3 separate regions of the Homo sapiens genome follow, and all the other regions are linked to region 1. Evidence: fine-mapped expression QTL. A gene starts in region 1. Each other region holds a variant in brackets. All regions are shown on one strand. Distances are from middle to middle. Region 1 holds the start of BRI3 (brain protein I3). Region 2 overlaps TECPR1 (tectonin beta-propeller repeat containing 1). Region 3 overlaps LMTK2 (lemur tyrosine kinase 2).

Region 1 (5,220 bases):
GTGTTCAGGGAACCGTCTCCACTCTCCTCGCAGAGAGGAGTGGCCCAGGGACCACACACCCCACCCACGCCAGCAGCAGAGCACCCAGCCCCCTGCTCGCCCTCTGGCTGCCACAGGGCACAGGGGCCCATCCCATGCCCAATGCAGCTGCAGAGGCAAAGCCTCGGGGAGCCAGAGCCACTCTCCAGCATCCAAGGCACCACGGGCAGAGCGCAGGGACGTGTGTGCTGGGAGGGCCTGGCTGCAACCCAAGGGGTCGCCGCAGGATCCAAGAGTGCTCTGGTCCCAACTTAAAGGACTAAGGACCCCCCAACCTTGTCCAGAGAGGACCCAGCCTCCACCCTGCCTGGTGCAGCTGCCCAGAGGCAGAGAGCAGTGATTAAGTAACCAAGGACCCCACACCCCTACAGCCTCTGAGGGCCGAGCCCAAGATCCTTCCCAGCAGAGCACAGTCTGACCCCGCTCCAGGTTCTGCATAACTGGAGAGCACCTCCAGGTTAGCGGAAGCCATGGGCCTCCGCAGGGACACAGTTCCCACCTAGGGAAGGGGAAGTGGCAGGGCCAGTGCCCCCATACCGACAGCAACTGCGCCACCACCTCGGCGCCCCCCAGCCCTGGGATATCTGGCCCATCCCTCGCTGCCGCTGGTCTCTCACCTCTCCAAGTTCAGGGGTTTGGGCAGAGAAGAGCTAAGAGCTTCAGAGACACCTCACCAGACACCCCCACGTCCCAGGTGGGGAAACAAGCCCCGCTGTTCCTGGCAGGACCAGGACCGGAACCCGGCTCCTCCGGCAGGCTGGACACCGGGATGGCAGGGCATGGACAATGACACGCAGGCAGACCCTCTGCTCCTCCATGTTCTGAGTCCCCTCCATGTGCCTTCACACTCACACAGCTCTGCCAGCCCCCCAACCCGGTGCAGCTCCGGGAGAGAACTATGTCCCGAAGGCAGCCAGCGCCCCACCCTGCCCTCCCTCCACCTTCACTCCAAAGGCTAATGTTTCTGCTGGGTGGTGACCAACTGTGTCAAACTGACGTCCCAGTTAGGGTTTGTCACGGGGTCCCTGTGCAGGCAAGCAGCCACAACCTGCCCCCGAGGTCCCAGCCTCTTGTCCCCACCTCTAGGTTGCCCTTCCTTCCCAGGAAGTTGCCTGCTAAGGCTCTGAAATCACTCACTTCCCCGTGACTCCACTCTAGGCCTTACACACACACTTTTGAAATCAAGTCTAAGTCCAAACCAGGGTTTCTTAATTCCATCTCAGTGGCTTCAACTTCCTCCTCCGAGACACAGCTGAAAACCCTGTCCCGGCCAACTCTGCCCCTACTTTCTAAGCAATCTGAACACCCCCAGCTGCCAAGGGTTTATATTTAATTAATCCTTATTTAAATGTGAATCCTCAAAACCTCCACAAAACAAGCCTCTAGCTGCACCTCGGGGCCCTATAAAAACCAAAAAGCGTGTGCAGGTCCAATGCGAGGATATGAAAAAAATAACTCCTGCCTCAAAGAAACACGGGGTTTCCATCCTGGTCCAGCTCGTGGAAGAGCGTTTCAAGCCAACTTTGGATAAAGCAGCTCTTACGGCCGTCGCTTCTCCCACTGAGGTCTGTCCTGCTGGTGCACTTACTTCCAAATGCCCCTTCCGGGAAAATGAAACCTTCCACCACCTTCGACGATCAACTGCAGAGTAAACTTGCGGAAAGTGAAGGAAAAAGCAGACACCTGATTCCTTGCAAGTCCCAGAACAAAGACGAAAGGACCACGAGTCCCGTTGTTACCATTTCTACATCCCAATCACTTGGGGTGCAATGCCCCAAGATCTAGGAAAAGGAATCCACCCTTTTGCCCCCACAAAATGTGTTCAGAGCCAAGGGTGAGCGGACCCGCACTCTCCCACACCGCATTCGGGCAGCCTGTCTGTCCCTCCCATAAAGGGCTCTGGTCAAGATCCAAGTCAAGCCGGACCCACTCCCACAAGCAGAGCTGTGAGGTCCTGGGGGTTAGGGCGGGGGTCCTCAGAGCTTCCAGGGCCAGTCCCCAGGCTGCAGACCCACTCACCTGCAGACAGGACAGCCTCCTACGACCACGATAGAGTTGGCAGGATAGCGGGTGACGGTCCGGCTGTGGATGTTGTAGACCCTGGGATGGTGGGTGGGTATCCCTGTGGGCGGGAAAGCAGGTCATTAGGGTGCAGGGAGGAGAAATCGGACCGCCACGGGGACTACTCATCCTGTCCCCTCAACCTCCACCCCGCTAAAAAAGCCCCCGGTCTTTTCCACCCTCGGGACGGCCACCGCGGGCCTGATTCGGCGCTAATCTGCCAACAGCGAGCGCCTCGTGACACAAAGTTCATCTGGGGCAGGGATCCGGCCCCGCCGGGTTACGACGGGCCCGAGGACTAGAGCCCCGGGGGGGAGGCTGGCCCTCGGCGGCGCCGGGTCCCGAAGCCAGCCCGGGGACCTCCAGCTCCAGGAAGGACCCCCGGGCGGGCCCCACCCGCCTCCGGACCCACGTCCCCCGACCGGGCTTGCCACCTCGGAAGCCGCCGGCGGGGAAAGTTGGTTACGGGCCCACCTGTGACGAGGTAGGGGTAGGGCGGCGGCGGGGGCGCGGCGGGGATGGCGCCGTAGCCGTGCGGGCCGCACGCGTAGTCGCCCTGGCCGGCCTCCAGGTTGTAGGCGGGCGGCCGCTCCTGCAGCAGCGGCTTGTGGTCCATGGCGGCCCGGCCGCGCCCGCCGCTCCGGCCCGGCTCGGCTCGGTCGGCCCCGGCGGGGGACGCGGCGGCGGCGGCGGGGACGCGGCGGACCGGGTGGCTCGGGCCCCTCTGAGGCAGACGCGGGGCGGGGCGGGGCGGGCGCGAGCCGCGGGCTTCCCCCGCCCTCCCGGGCCCAGTCACAAGACCGGGGTCACGTGGGCGGCGGGAGGCGGGGCTCGGGGGCGGGGCCGGCGGGGCGTCTTAAAGGGGCCGCGCCCTCCCGAAGCCGCCCCGCCGGCGGCGCCTCTGCACTCCGCCCCGCCCCGCCGCCGCTGCTCTCTAGACCTCCCGTGGCGGGGAGACCCCCCCCCCCGCCCATCCCCCACGACGACCCAGAGACGCCCCATAGGGTCATGACCTTTAGGGCTCGCGGATGCACCCCCACCTCCCCCTACGCCCCGATCTCCCAGGCCGGCCGAGGTCCCCCTACCGGTGGAGGAGGGGGAGGGCGGGGCCTGAGAGGGGGCGGGGCCGGGTGGGTCCCAGGCCGCCCCAACGCCAGCCCTCTGCCCCTATGATCGCCAGCGCTTCCAGCAATACAAAGGGCACACCCGGGTGTGCACCTCAGCTGCGGCCTGCGCGGTGCTCAGCTGCGGCGCATTCCCTCCGTTTGCCTTTTTTTGGACAATTAGGTGATTGACGGGGGTAGTAGCCAGTGCTTACAAATAACTCCCCCGTTTGGGGACAAAACTATAAATACTGGGCACCTGCCGCGTCTCCTCAGTTTCCCTAATCTTCAGGCAGCCCTGCCAGGTGTTTTGCTTACCCCTGGAGGACAACACGGGATCGGGCTCAGAAGGGGGAGGGATTTGGCTGTGGCAGGTGCGGGTCAGAGCCCGTATCTAAACCTGGGTGTTTTCTGGCCTCGGGGACTGCGTCAGGCGCCCTCGTTGAAACATTTCCTCATACAAGGCTTCACGGGTTGGCCAGGACAACTTTAAAACGAACGATTGGAACGTTCAGGATTGCTTGCGTCCTTAGCGCCTCTGCACCTTTTCAGGGGCACCTGTATCCGTTACTGTATTCTGTCTCCAGTTTTCTCACCTGCATTTTGATATCACCTGCACTGTAGCTCTGGGACGACTACAGCTCTTCTCGAACCGCGCCTTTTTAATTTTTAAAAAAAAAATTTGTAGGGGGTGCTGGGGGGGCTCTCTTGCTCTGTCACCCAGGCTGCAGTAGAGTGACACAGTCATTGCTCAATGCAGTCTCGACCTCCTGGGCCCAAGCCATCCTCCCACCTCAGCCTCCTCAGTAGCTGGGGACCACAGGCACACGCCACCATGCCCAGCTAATTTTTAAAAATTTTTGTATGGGATCTTGCTATGTGCCCAGGCCAGTCTCAAACTGCTGGCCTCAACCAATCCTTTTGCATCAGCCTCCCAAAGTGCTGGAATTACAGATGTCAGCCCCTGCACCCGGCCTTATTTTTATTTTTTAATAAGGGATCATCATTCACATGTATATATACACACACATACATATATATATATATATATATATATATATCTTTTTTTTTTTTTTTTTTAACAGAGTCTCACTCTGTGGCCCAGGCTGGAGTGCAGTGATGCAACCCTGGCTCACTGCAACGTCGACCTCCGGGGCTCAAGTGATCCTCCCATCTCAGCTTCCTAAGTAGCTGGGGACTACAGGTGCACGCCACAGTGCCCAGCTAATTTTTTTTTATATTTTGTAGAGATGGGGTGTTGCTATGTTTCCCAGGCTGGTCTCAAACTCCTGGGCTCAAGTGATCCTCCTCACTCAGCCTCACAAGGTGCTGGGATTATAGGCATGAGCCACCAAGCCCACCTGACCATCATATTTCTTTATCACAAGACCAGCTCTTCGAAGCCCATTCCCATCGATCTTGTACCTGCTGTCCTAGTCATCGTACCCACAGTCCTCGAAAAAGGAACTGAGGGGTGGTCCAGGTACACTAGGGAACTGAGGGGTGGCCCCTGGCACTGATGAACAGCCAGATCAAGAGTGAAGACTGGGCCGGGCGTGGTGGCTCATGCCTGTAATCCCAGCACTTTGGGAGGGTGAGGTGGGTGGATCACTTGAGGTCAGGAGTTCGAGACCAGCTGGCCAACATGGTGAAACCCCGTCTCTACTAAAAATACAAAAATTGGCTGGCCATGGTGGGGGGTACCTGTAATCCCAGCTACTCTGGAGGCTGAGGCACGAGGATCACATGAACCTGGGAGGCGGAGGTTACAGTGAGCCAAGATCGTGCCATTGCACTCCAGCCTGGATGACAGAGTGAGATTCCATCTCAAAAAAAAAAAAAAAAAAAAGAGTGGAGACTGGCCAGGAGTGGCCAAGGGCTTTGGAGCCAGTAGAGGCTCTGGTAGGCAGTGAGGAGGCCATTGTTCCTGGGGGCAGCTGTCCGGGCACCACAGGGTGACAGCCCCTGGCCAGAGAATACTGGGGTGCAGCCTCGTGCCTCATCAACCATGAAGAGA
Region 2 (5,220 bases), 36 kb after region 1:
GCCGTCTGGAGCACCCGCATGGCTCTGGTATGCTGCGGGAGCACTGGGCCCAGCCTCCAGGCACCTAAATAAACTCTGCCTGTCTCCTTTTGCTCCGGTTTTTAAGTCAGACTGGCCATGTCTTCATCTGTAGGCTCTTTCCTCTCTTCAGGCCCCGGGCCAGTGTCCTGGGTTGGATCTAGGAGCCGCCCTGTCGGGCAGAGCTTCTCAGGTGATGGCCCTGGTGGCTTCATCCAGTAGCTCTGTGTTTGGCTGCCTTGTGTGTGGCCATGTGGCCCTGCCACGGTGGAAAGACTGTTCCTATCAGGAGCCAGGACTCCAGGAAGGACACCCCTGGGTGCAACAGCACTATGGGCCCTGGAGGTGGGGCCAGGGGTGGTCAGTGGCAGAGCTTAGCAATAGCCTTGGCTATGCCTACAAAGCACAGAGAAAGAAGAGAGAAAGGGCTGGGTGCAGTGGCTCACGTCTATAATCCCAGCGCTTCGGGAGGCCAAGGTGGGAGGATCGCTTGAGGCCAGGAGTTCAAGACCAGCCTGGGCAACATAGCGAGACCCCATCTCTACAAAAAAAATTTTAAAAATTAGCCAGGTACGGTGGCACATGCCTGTAGTCCCAGCCACTCAGGAGGCTGAGGCAGGAGGATGGCTTGAGTTCAGGAGTTCAAGGCTGCAGTGAGCTATGATTGCACCACTGTACTCCAGTCTGGACAACAGAGCAAGATACTCTCTTAAAAAATAAAAAAGAAAAGAAAAGAAAAAGAAAGGAGTAGAGAATGGCAGAAGAAGAGAGCCGGGGGAAGAGGAGGAAGGAGTCACTGAGGGCGCATGAAGAAAAGACCCCTACGTCCCTGAATTCACATGGTCACGTTGGCTCTCAACGTGCCCTCATTATGCCCAGATAGAGGCCAACATGGCGGGGAGACCTGCCCACTCTGGGGAAGGACCCCTGGGGAAGTAGTGGGGTAGTTATATCTTTCGAGATTCAACTAAACCTGTAAGCTTTCATTGATTCTTTTGAAAACAAAGATCTGGCCAGGCATGGTGGCTCAAGGCTGTAATCCTAGCAGTTTGGGAGGCCGAGATGGGAGGATTGCTTGAGACTAGGAGTTTGAGACCAGCTTGGGCAACATAGTGAGACTCTGTCTCTACAAAAAAAAAATTTTTAATTAGCTGGGTATGGTGGTGCATGTCTGTTGTTGTCCCAGGAGGCTGAGGTAGGAGGATCACTTGAGCCCAGGAGTTCGAGGCCGCAACGAGTTGTAATCAAACCACTGCACTCCAGCCTGGGTGACCGAGCAAGACCCTGTCTCTACTTTTTAAATTCTTTTTTTTTGAGACAGGGTCTCCCTCTGTCACCTAGGCTGCAGTGCAGTGGCACTGTGTCTGCTCACTGCAACCTCCATCTCCCGGGTTCAAGCCATTATCCTGCCTCAGCCACCTGAGTAGCTGCGACTACAGGCACACACTACTGTGCCTGGCTAATTTTTGTATTTTTAGTAGAGATGAGGTTTCACCATGTTGACCAGGCTGGTCTTGAACTCCTGGCCTCAAGTGATCTATTTTTAAATTCTTTCAAAAACAAAAAAGAGACCGGGCGTGGTGGCTCATGCCTCTAATCCCAACACTTCGGGAGGCAGAGGCAGGTGGATCACCTGAGGTCAGGAGTTCGAGACCAGCCTGTCCAACATGGTGAAATCATGTCTCTACTAAAAATACAAAAATTAGCCAGGCGTGGTGGCGTGCACCTGTAGTCCCAACTACTGGGGAGGCTGAGGCAGGAGAAAACCTGGGAGGTGGAGGTTGCAGTGAGCCAAGATCCCAAGATCGTGCCATTGCACTCCAGCCTGGGCAACAGAGCGAGACTCCGTCTCAAAAAAATAAACAAAAAAAGAAAGAATAAGCAGTTGGCCACGCGCGGTGGCTCACGCCTGTAATCCCAGCACTTTGGGAGGCTGAGGCAGGCAGATCACAAGGTCAGGAGATCGATACCAGCCTGGCCAATGTGGCGAAACCCCGTCTCTACTAAAAATACAAAAACTAGCTGGGTATGGTGGCAGGTGCCTATAATCCCAGCTACTTGGGAGGCTGAGGCAGGAGAATTGCTTGAACCCTGGAGGTGGAGGTTGCAGTGAGCCAAGATTGCGCCACTGCACTCCAGCCTGGGTGACAGAGTGAGACTCCATCTAAAAAAAAAAAAAAAGAGAAAAAGAATAAATAGTCACAGTAGAAGTCTCCCAGGTTTCACATGACTCTGATGTCCCCTGGGCTGGGAGCCTGAACGCTGGCCCTCGTCCTCCTGCCGCAGGTTACCTCCAGCCGCTGCCATGCCCAACTCAGTGCTGTGGGCGGTGGACCTCTTCGGGAGAGTGTACACGCTGTCCACAGCAGGCCAGTACTGGGAAATGTGCAAGGACTCCCAGCTGGAGTTCAAGCGCGTCAGCGCCACCACGCAGTGCTGCTGGGGCATTGCCTGTGACAACCAGGTCTACGTGTATGTGTGTGCCAGCGATGTCCCCATCCGCCGCCGAGAGGAGGCCTATGAGAATCAGGTAGTGACCCTCATGGTTGGAGTTGCCGAGCGGGTCAGTTCGCTGGGTTATTGGTTAAAATGATGAACCACAGAAGGGAAATAGAGGCCCCAGATTCCCCACCAGTTCCTGCCTTCATTTCCTTCCTTGTACTTAAAATCTGTGTTGCTGCCAGGCGTGGTGACTCACGCCTGTAATCCCAGCACTTTGGAAGGCTGTGGCGGGCAGATCGCTTGAGCTCAGGAGTTTGAGACCAGCCTAGGCATCATGGTGAATCTCTGCCTCTACAAAAAAAATACAAGAATTAGCAGGGTGTGGTGGTGTGCACCTTTAGTCCCAGCTACTTAGGAGGCTGAGGCAGGAGGATCACTTGAGCCAGGGAGGTCAAGGCTGTAGTGAGCCATAATCGTGCCCTGCACTCCAGCCTGGGCAACAGAGCAAGACCCTGTCCCCCTGCACCCCGCCCCTCCAAAAAAAATTCAAGTTGCATAGTATCCAGGGTCTTTGAGGCTGAAGCCACTATTGTGTCCTCACCAAAGCAGTCTGGCCAGGTCCCCACGAGGGCAGGCTCCAGTGGTTTCTGGGAGCCTAGGACAAG[G/C]TGTGCCCTCCACCGCCTGCCCTGCTCACAGCGCCGTGGCTGGCAGGAGGTTCTTTGCCCTTTGGGGCTGTGCTGATGTACTTGCTGGCTCATGATGAAGTGGCATGGGGGTCCCCAGTTGCTGGGTCCCACACAGGCCCTCTGCTCACTTCCTATTCTGGAGATCAATGAGGGGGTCGGCTGGGCAGGGTCAGCTGGTCCTGGAGATGCCTGGCCCGCCTGGGTTCCCGCCCAGCAGGCTTGGGTCCAAGGCCGCCTCTGTGTCCCCGGCCCTCAGCGCTGGAATCCCATGGGCGGCTTCTGTGAGAAGCTCCTGCTGAGTGACCGCTGGGGGTGGAGTGACGTGAGTGGGCTCCAGCACCGGCCGCTGGACAGGGTGGCACTGCCCTCGCCGCACTGGGAGTGGGAGTCTGACTGGTACGTGGATGAGAATTTTGGAGGTGAACCCACTGAGAAAGGGGTAGGTGAACTTGGGACCCTCCATGACTGCCCTGTGGGGAGGGGGTGCCTCCCGCCTGTCCCTGCTTCTGTCCCCTGCACCCTGTGGTGCCTGAGCTCGGGTGTTTCAGGCCACACCCTCCCTCCCCACCTTCCCCAGCTCTTCAAATGCCTTCCCCGCAGAGCCTGAGAGCCCCTTCCTTGGTGTTTCAGGGGTGGACGTACGCCATCGACTTTCCCGCCACCTACACGAAAGACAAGAAGTGGAATTCTTGTGTGCGGCGCCGGAAGTGGATCCGGTACAGGAGATACAAGTCCCGGGACATCTGGGCCAAGGTCTCTGTTCCTGAATGTGGGTTGGGGGCAGGATAGGGCCAGGACAGAGTGTCACATGCAGCCTCCTCTCCACCTTCCCCACCTGTGTGCACCAGGGGACACCACGCCCACCTCGGGACCTGGCCTTTGAGCTGTTTCCTGTCCCGGGAACACCACGACACTGCGTGTCCCTTCACTTGGGAGATAGTCACACAGGGAGCCAGGCCAGGCCCAGGACAGCACAGAACTTGCCCTGACCCTGGTGTCCAAGCTGCTCTGTCCCAGACTGAGCCTCCATCTGGCACTTTGTCCTCCCCCTCAGCCAAGGGAGGCACCTCTGGCTCTAGCGTTGCTCCATGACCCAGAAGAACCTCCCAGCTTAGGGAGCACAGCACTGGACCCAGGTCTTGGCGTGGCCTCCAATGAGTGGAGGCCTCCCTGGGACATACAGGGCTGTCAGGTGGGGCTGCCCCTGGGACTGGGAGAAGCCAGGAGACCAGGGAGCTGGCCCTATTTTTTTTTCTTTTTAGAGATAGGGTCTCGCTCTGTTGCACTCTGTTGAGTGCAGTGGTACAGTCACAGCTCACTGCAGCCTGGAACTCCTGAGCTCAAGCAATCCTCCCACCTCAGCCTCCCTAGTAGCTGGGACTACAGGCATGCACCACCATGCCCGGTTAACTTTTAAATTTTTTGTAGAGGCTGGGTGTGATGGCTCATGCCTGTAATCCTAGCACTTGAGAAGCCAAGGCAGGTGGATCACTTGAGGCCGGGAGTTTGAGAACAGCCTGGCCAACATGGTGAAACCACGTCTCTACTGAAAATACAAAAATTAGCCGGGCAGGGGCCCCCACAGTCCTGATGCTGCCTTCCCTGTGAATTAAGGCAGCTGCAGGCTGGGCTGAAGAATGGAAGTCCGGATGGCAGGCGGGCGGGAGGTGGGTGCATGCCCAGGTGCCCACTGGGCGCTGACTGCTACCATTTCTCACTTCCTTCCTTCAGATCCCCTCGAAGGATGACCCCAAGGAGCTGCCCGACCCCTTCAACGACCTCTCTGTAGGGGGCTGGGAGATCACGGAGGAGCCTGTGGGCCGCCTGTCAGTGTGGGCTGTGTCTCTGCAGGGCAAGGTAAGGCCAACCCCTCTCCCTGCCCTGGCTCCCCACGATCCCACCTCCTGTGGGTCCTGTCCTGTGCACCCCCTGGGTCTTGCTCCTCCCCGGAGCCCCGGCCCCCCCACCCCATGCCTGCTCCTGGCCTTTCTCTCCTCCGAGCCCCCAGCGTGCTGATCAGTGCCCAGCCTCAGCTCAGGCACATCAATGCGGCCTCCTCAAGACAGTTTCTGAG
Region 3 (5,220 bases), 120 kb after region 1:
TCCCCTGTCTCCACACTGCCTTTACAAAGCCTTCCCCAGTGATCCTGGTTAGGACTCCCGTACTTCTATACGCACTACCCAAGCTTTTATTTAATAATTAGAATCAATCAATTTTAGTAACTAAAAATGGCCACCACTTACTGAGCATTTTCCTTGTGCTCGGTAATCTCATCCATCATCTTACTTAATGGTCAGGGCAGTTCTAAGGGGAGACAGTATTACTGCCATTTTACAGAAGAGGTTAAGGGATTTTCCAAGGTGATAAACCAGTGAGTGGCAGAATGAACATCCGAGCAGGCAAGTCAGGGGCGGGGCTTATTCACTTCTGTGTTCCTTAAAGCACCAGGCAGCTCCCGGCACTTCGAATTTGCTCAATCCATTTTTGTTGAGTGAGTGATCCTTAATCAAAAGTCTCATTGCCTTGATATTCACGTGAGAGCGGCGTGTACCTGCCATGGCAACAAGTTCTATAAAACACCCTACAGTCATCTCTCGGCTCCTCTCATAAACATTGTCACCGTCAGCATTGCAAATCTGTGGCTGCAGGCCAGCTACAAAATGCACTCAGAGGAGTTTTCATTTACTTTCATAAAAATTCCATGATTAAGTGCCTTTTAAAAACAGGCTGGTTAATTCCATCTTACAAGGAATTAAGTAAGTGCAAAAATATTTTCTCCTTTCTACTTGGGAGATGTTATCATTGGGCATGATGACTGCAGGATGACGACTGAAAAGGCCACTGTTCATTCAATCGCTCTTGACCTGCTAAGACAGGCAGCGATAGCCGGTCCTTCACCGTGGCCACAGCAGCTTTTTACAGAGCCCAGACCGCTGCCCTCTGTGCCCTTTGTGCCCTTTGTATTGCGGCCAGGGGGCAGGTCCTGCCTTGGGTTATGCCCCTCTGATCAGAAAGGCCTGTTTCTGGGCAGGTTTTGGGTCATCCAGGCTGGGAGCTGGGCTCAGTGTCAAAGAGACACTTTGGTGTGTCCCATGGGACAACCCTCGGTCCCTTCAAGTAGATGCCCTCTCTGGCTCCCTGGGCTGGTGCTACCTGACCGTTCTTGCCACACGGTGGGAGCCCGGAGAAGCTGGACTTCAGTGCCAAGAACCCTGTCAGGCCCCTAGTCCTTGCTGCTGGAAAACCTGTTCCTTTTCAAGTTTACGAGAGCCCAGAAGTGATATGTACGAAATTGCCCAAGGAAACAATGTGACCTCCCACTGCTGGACAAGTTGGTGGCACCCTGTGTTTATGACCTTGACTCTGATATATGACTGGCCACGCCAAGTGATAACCAAAGATTTCCAAAGGGCATCCTAGCCTCCGAACATAGGTAGCACCTGACATGGCACCTTAAATTGTGGGAGGTAATTATCCATTTTTTTCTACTGGGGTAAAAAAAAATGCATAAAATACCATTTGGCATTGTAACCACGTCTAACTTTACAATTCCAGAGTTAAGTACATTCTTCTTGCTGCACAACCATTACCACCAGCCCCCTCCAGAACTTGTTCAACTCACAAAACTGAAGCTTTGCATCCATTAAACAACTCCCCATTTCCCAGCCCCAGCCCACCCCTGGCACCCACCTTTCTACTTTCTGTCTCTAGGAATCTGACTACTCTAGGTCCCTCCTGTAAGTAGAATTACCCAGAACTTGTCTTTTTGTGACTGGCTTGTTTCACTTCCCATAATGGCCTTAAGGTTCATTCATGCTGTAGCCTGTGTTGGAATTTCCTTCCTTTTAACAATCCTCCATTGCACAGAGAGAGCAGATTTGGTTTATCCATTCACCCATCGATGGACACCTGGCCACTTCCACCTCCCAGCTACTGTGAATAGTGGTTTCGATAATAACCCATTACTGTGAATAACGTGTGCAAATATCTGCCTGAGGGCCTGCTTTCACTTCTTTTGTATATATCCCCAGAAGTGGAACTAGCTGGATCATATGGTAATTGTATTTTTAATTATTTGAGGAACAATGATGGCTTAAAAAATTTTATTGATCAATGTACCATTAGGTGGGACGCTTAAATTAAACAAGCTATTAGCTCTGCACTGCCAGTGGAAGCTTTTGATGGCGACCAGAGCTCCTCGGGATGTTCAGGAGTGACCGTCCCCGAGTGACTTAGGAGGGTCACATAAAATGTGTTTCATGAAGTCACATCTGCTCATTCTAGAAGGCTGTATGCATAATATTCACCCCAAAGTATAAGAGCCAATCAAATTTAGGTAAGTTAATATGCTTTGAATACTTAGTCTAAGTATTTGGATAACATGTATTTAAGTCTGAGCTCTAAATTTGTTGGGGAAAAAATTATAAGGATGCTGAGTTAAAGAACAGATGTATTTCTTATATTTTCATAAAGATGTCTGTACAATGATAAAGATACAGAAATACTCTAGATCAAC[A/G]CTGGGTCATTTATGGTAACATAAAGGAGTTATTCCACCATGTTTTTGTGTTTCTTTATAAAACTGGTTAAATTACTAGTCCCAAAAAGGACAGCTGCTATAAAAAATACATTAAAATAGCATTAAAACAAAGCCCATCTTCTGAACCCATTCAGAAGAAAACATGAAGCGGAGTGGACAAGGTCTTTGACCATTGTATGAAAAAACTAACATTGTCTACTGGAACTTTCAAGAACGCATGCAGAAGGGCAAAGAAGAACTGGAAAATGCTAAAATATATGAGATAGTTTTCCAAGCCACCTCCATCAGCCGGGAAACGGGCAATTGTCAAATAGATGCTGCCTCCGGCTCTATTTCTGTGATGGTCACTCACAAAGACTATGCCTCAACTGTTATTTATAATTAATATAAGGAGCTTAGGGACCAAAAAAGGCAACATGAAACAGCTCAGAATAGCGGGCCTCTGACGAGCAGACTTGCCTTGTCACCTGAGGGCGCATCTCTGTGTCCTAACTTTTTTTTGTTGATGCTGTGTCAGTGCCAAAATCACCTTCCATGGGTCACACAGAGCTAGACTAAAAGGAAGCTATTTTTATATCACAATAACCTAAGATCATAAATTTTATAACTCTGATCATATCGAGATCATCAAAACCGATTATATAATAATAAGCAATAACACCCTGAGAAATCCCAGCGAGAACTCCTTCCTCTTAGTTCTCATGCCTCTACTAAATAATTGATCCTGTGTCACCTCTCACTGGGCGACCTGGAGGACAACGAGCACACTGAGTCTCGGTATCTCCAGGTGCAGCATGCTGCCTTACTTCAGTTAAGTGCCCAATGAATAAGCATCCTCCACAATGGCAGAGAATATGGGGTGGCCCAGAAAAGTAGGTTTAATTCCAGTTTTCCTTACATGGAGAGAGAGCTCTAGGAGTTTCCAGCTCCTTTGGGGCAGGATTAAAATATTAATTTTAGACTTTGTTAGGTTAAAAAATGTGCATGCTGTAATTTCTAGTGCGACCACACAAAAAATTAAGAAACAAATATCTCAAGTCCAGACTTGTAGATGGGGAAAATTGAAACAAACAAAAAAAATTGAGAATCCCAAAGAAGAACAGAAAAAAAGCAAAAAAGAAAAATTGTAACGGGTACAAAAAAGAATACCAAATAGGTAGATAAAATTACAAATATCTCACTAATTACAAGAAACGTAAATGAACTACATATTCCATTTTAAGTGACCACGATTGCAAGATTTAAAAATTTTTTAACAACAAACTATTTACAAGAGGTGTAAACCAGAGAAGAAAAGGATTGACAGAAATATAATTTGACAGGCAAATTCCAACCAAAAGAAAGTTGGTCTAACTATATTAGTATCAATAAAACCAGACTTTATCTTTATTAATGCTTTTAACCTTAAAGAGAGCCCCTTCATAATGATAGAAGGTTGAAATTGTAGGAAATTATACCAACCTTAAATGTTCATGCCTACATAACAGGGCATCAAAATGTAAAAACAACCAGAATTATAAGGAAAATCTTTAACTAGAGCCTCTCTCAGTAACCAACAGAAAACTGACTCAAACCCCCTCCACACTCCTTCCCCCAAATCAGAAGATATGAGAGATTTAAACAACCTCACAAACTTGACCCAGAGGCCATGAAGAATGCTTTAAGGAACAACATCAGAATACACTTTCTCTTTTTTTCTTTTCCAGCATCTACAGGCACGAAAAAACACTGATCCTAGAGTGAAGATGAATGCAGCCCAGAAGAGAGCCACAGTTGACTCAAAGCCAACACCTAAGATGAGTGAGAACTACTTTGTTGCAATGAGCCACAGATATTTGAGGGTAACTATTACATAATCCAACAAAAGCTAATGTTATCAAGTTTATTAATCAACCACCTCTGCCAATGAGAGAAATACTCGAATCACACTTAGGAATTAAAACAAAAAATCACGATGCTTACTGTTCTTTATTTAAACAGATGAAAATATTATTTGAATTAACTGGGAATTTGTTTTGGGGTACTCCTATTTTTCTATGCACAGCCATGGAAGTTTCAATGTTCTGAAAACTGAGATGATGCAAAGAAATCAATTAAAACCTGACTCATCCAATTAACAGCTCACCACTGTTTTTGGAAGATAACAATTACATGCTAAAAATGGGCTTTTAAAAAAGATGAAATATTCTGCATGCGGGAAAAGATGTTTAGAGGAAATTTCACATAGAAATTACTACTGAAATTATTCATGAAACTGCACAAAGAACAATCTTTCCAACTGTCCAATAAATAATATTATCATGCTAAGAAATAAGGTTTTTAAGAAAATAAATCTAACTCTTTAAACATATAAATGTCACATACGTTTGCTATTTTCAGATGCTGACGGATGAGGAGTACTCTAGGTAAAGCGATTCTTGGGCTCTCTCAGGGGGTTAAAGTGTTTCAAGATGTTTCAAGCCTGGTTCACGCTCTTAGGAGGGCACATCTAGACCCAAGCTCTGGCTCTGGCTGTGCTACACACTTGATCCACACCATGGCCATCACATGGAAAGTATGGACAAATATTGGTACCTAACTCTGGAGTTTGTTATCATTAAGTGTGGTAAGGCAACTAAATAGCTTAGCACAGGGACTGCAGTGTAACAAACCACTATGTAAGTGTCAGTCAACACTATCACCATCACCAAAGGGAATAAAAGTAACTCATCATAAAGTTCTTCAAGTGGGGGACAGACATGAAAGCAACCCCTCATCCAGCATGTCCATCTGTCAAAAACACTTG

The links. PIP is the estimated chance that this variant, and not a neighbour inherited with it, causes the effect. A credible set is the group of variants that fine-mapping cannot tell apart.
Region 2: its variant is the best candidate, but not a certain one, in a credible set for the expression of BRI3 in whole blood (TOPMed, PIP 0.80).
Region 3: its variant is the best candidate, but not a certain one, in a credible set for the expression of BRI3 in whole blood (INTERVAL, PIP 0.59).

Annotation. Positions count from the first base shown.
Region 1 is chr7:98,279,292-98,284,511 of GRCh38, reverse strand. BRI3 (brain protein I3) reads right to left here and starts at 2,826. Exons shown (of 3, transcript NM_015379.5): 1 at 2,575-2,826; 2 at 2,059-2,161. The coding sequence starts at 2,716. RefSeq lists silencers at 2,335-2,674, 2,805-3,314 and an enhancer at 3,011-3,995.
Region 2 is chr7:98,243,250-98,248,469 of GRCh38, reverse strand. It overlaps TECPR1 (tectonin beta-propeller repeat containing 1), which reads left to right. Exons shown (of 26, transcript NM_015395.3): 3 at 2,305-2,548; 4 at 3,403-3,585; 5 at 3,777-3,899; 6 at 4,878-5,003. The coding sequence starts at 2,324. Among named protein-coding and RNA genes, the nearest start is that of TECPR1, 6.4 kb to the left of the region's middle. The variant G/C (reference allele first, on the strand shown) is at 3,126.
Region 3 is chr7:98,159,474-98,164,693 of GRCh38, reverse strand. All of the region lies in intron 6 of LMTK2 (lemur tyrosine kinase 2), which reads right to left. Among named protein-coding and RNA genes, the nearest start is that of BHLHA15, 49 kb to the left of the region's middle. RefSeq lists enhancers at 429-937, 938-1,447. The variant A/G (reference allele first, on the strand shown) is at 2,415.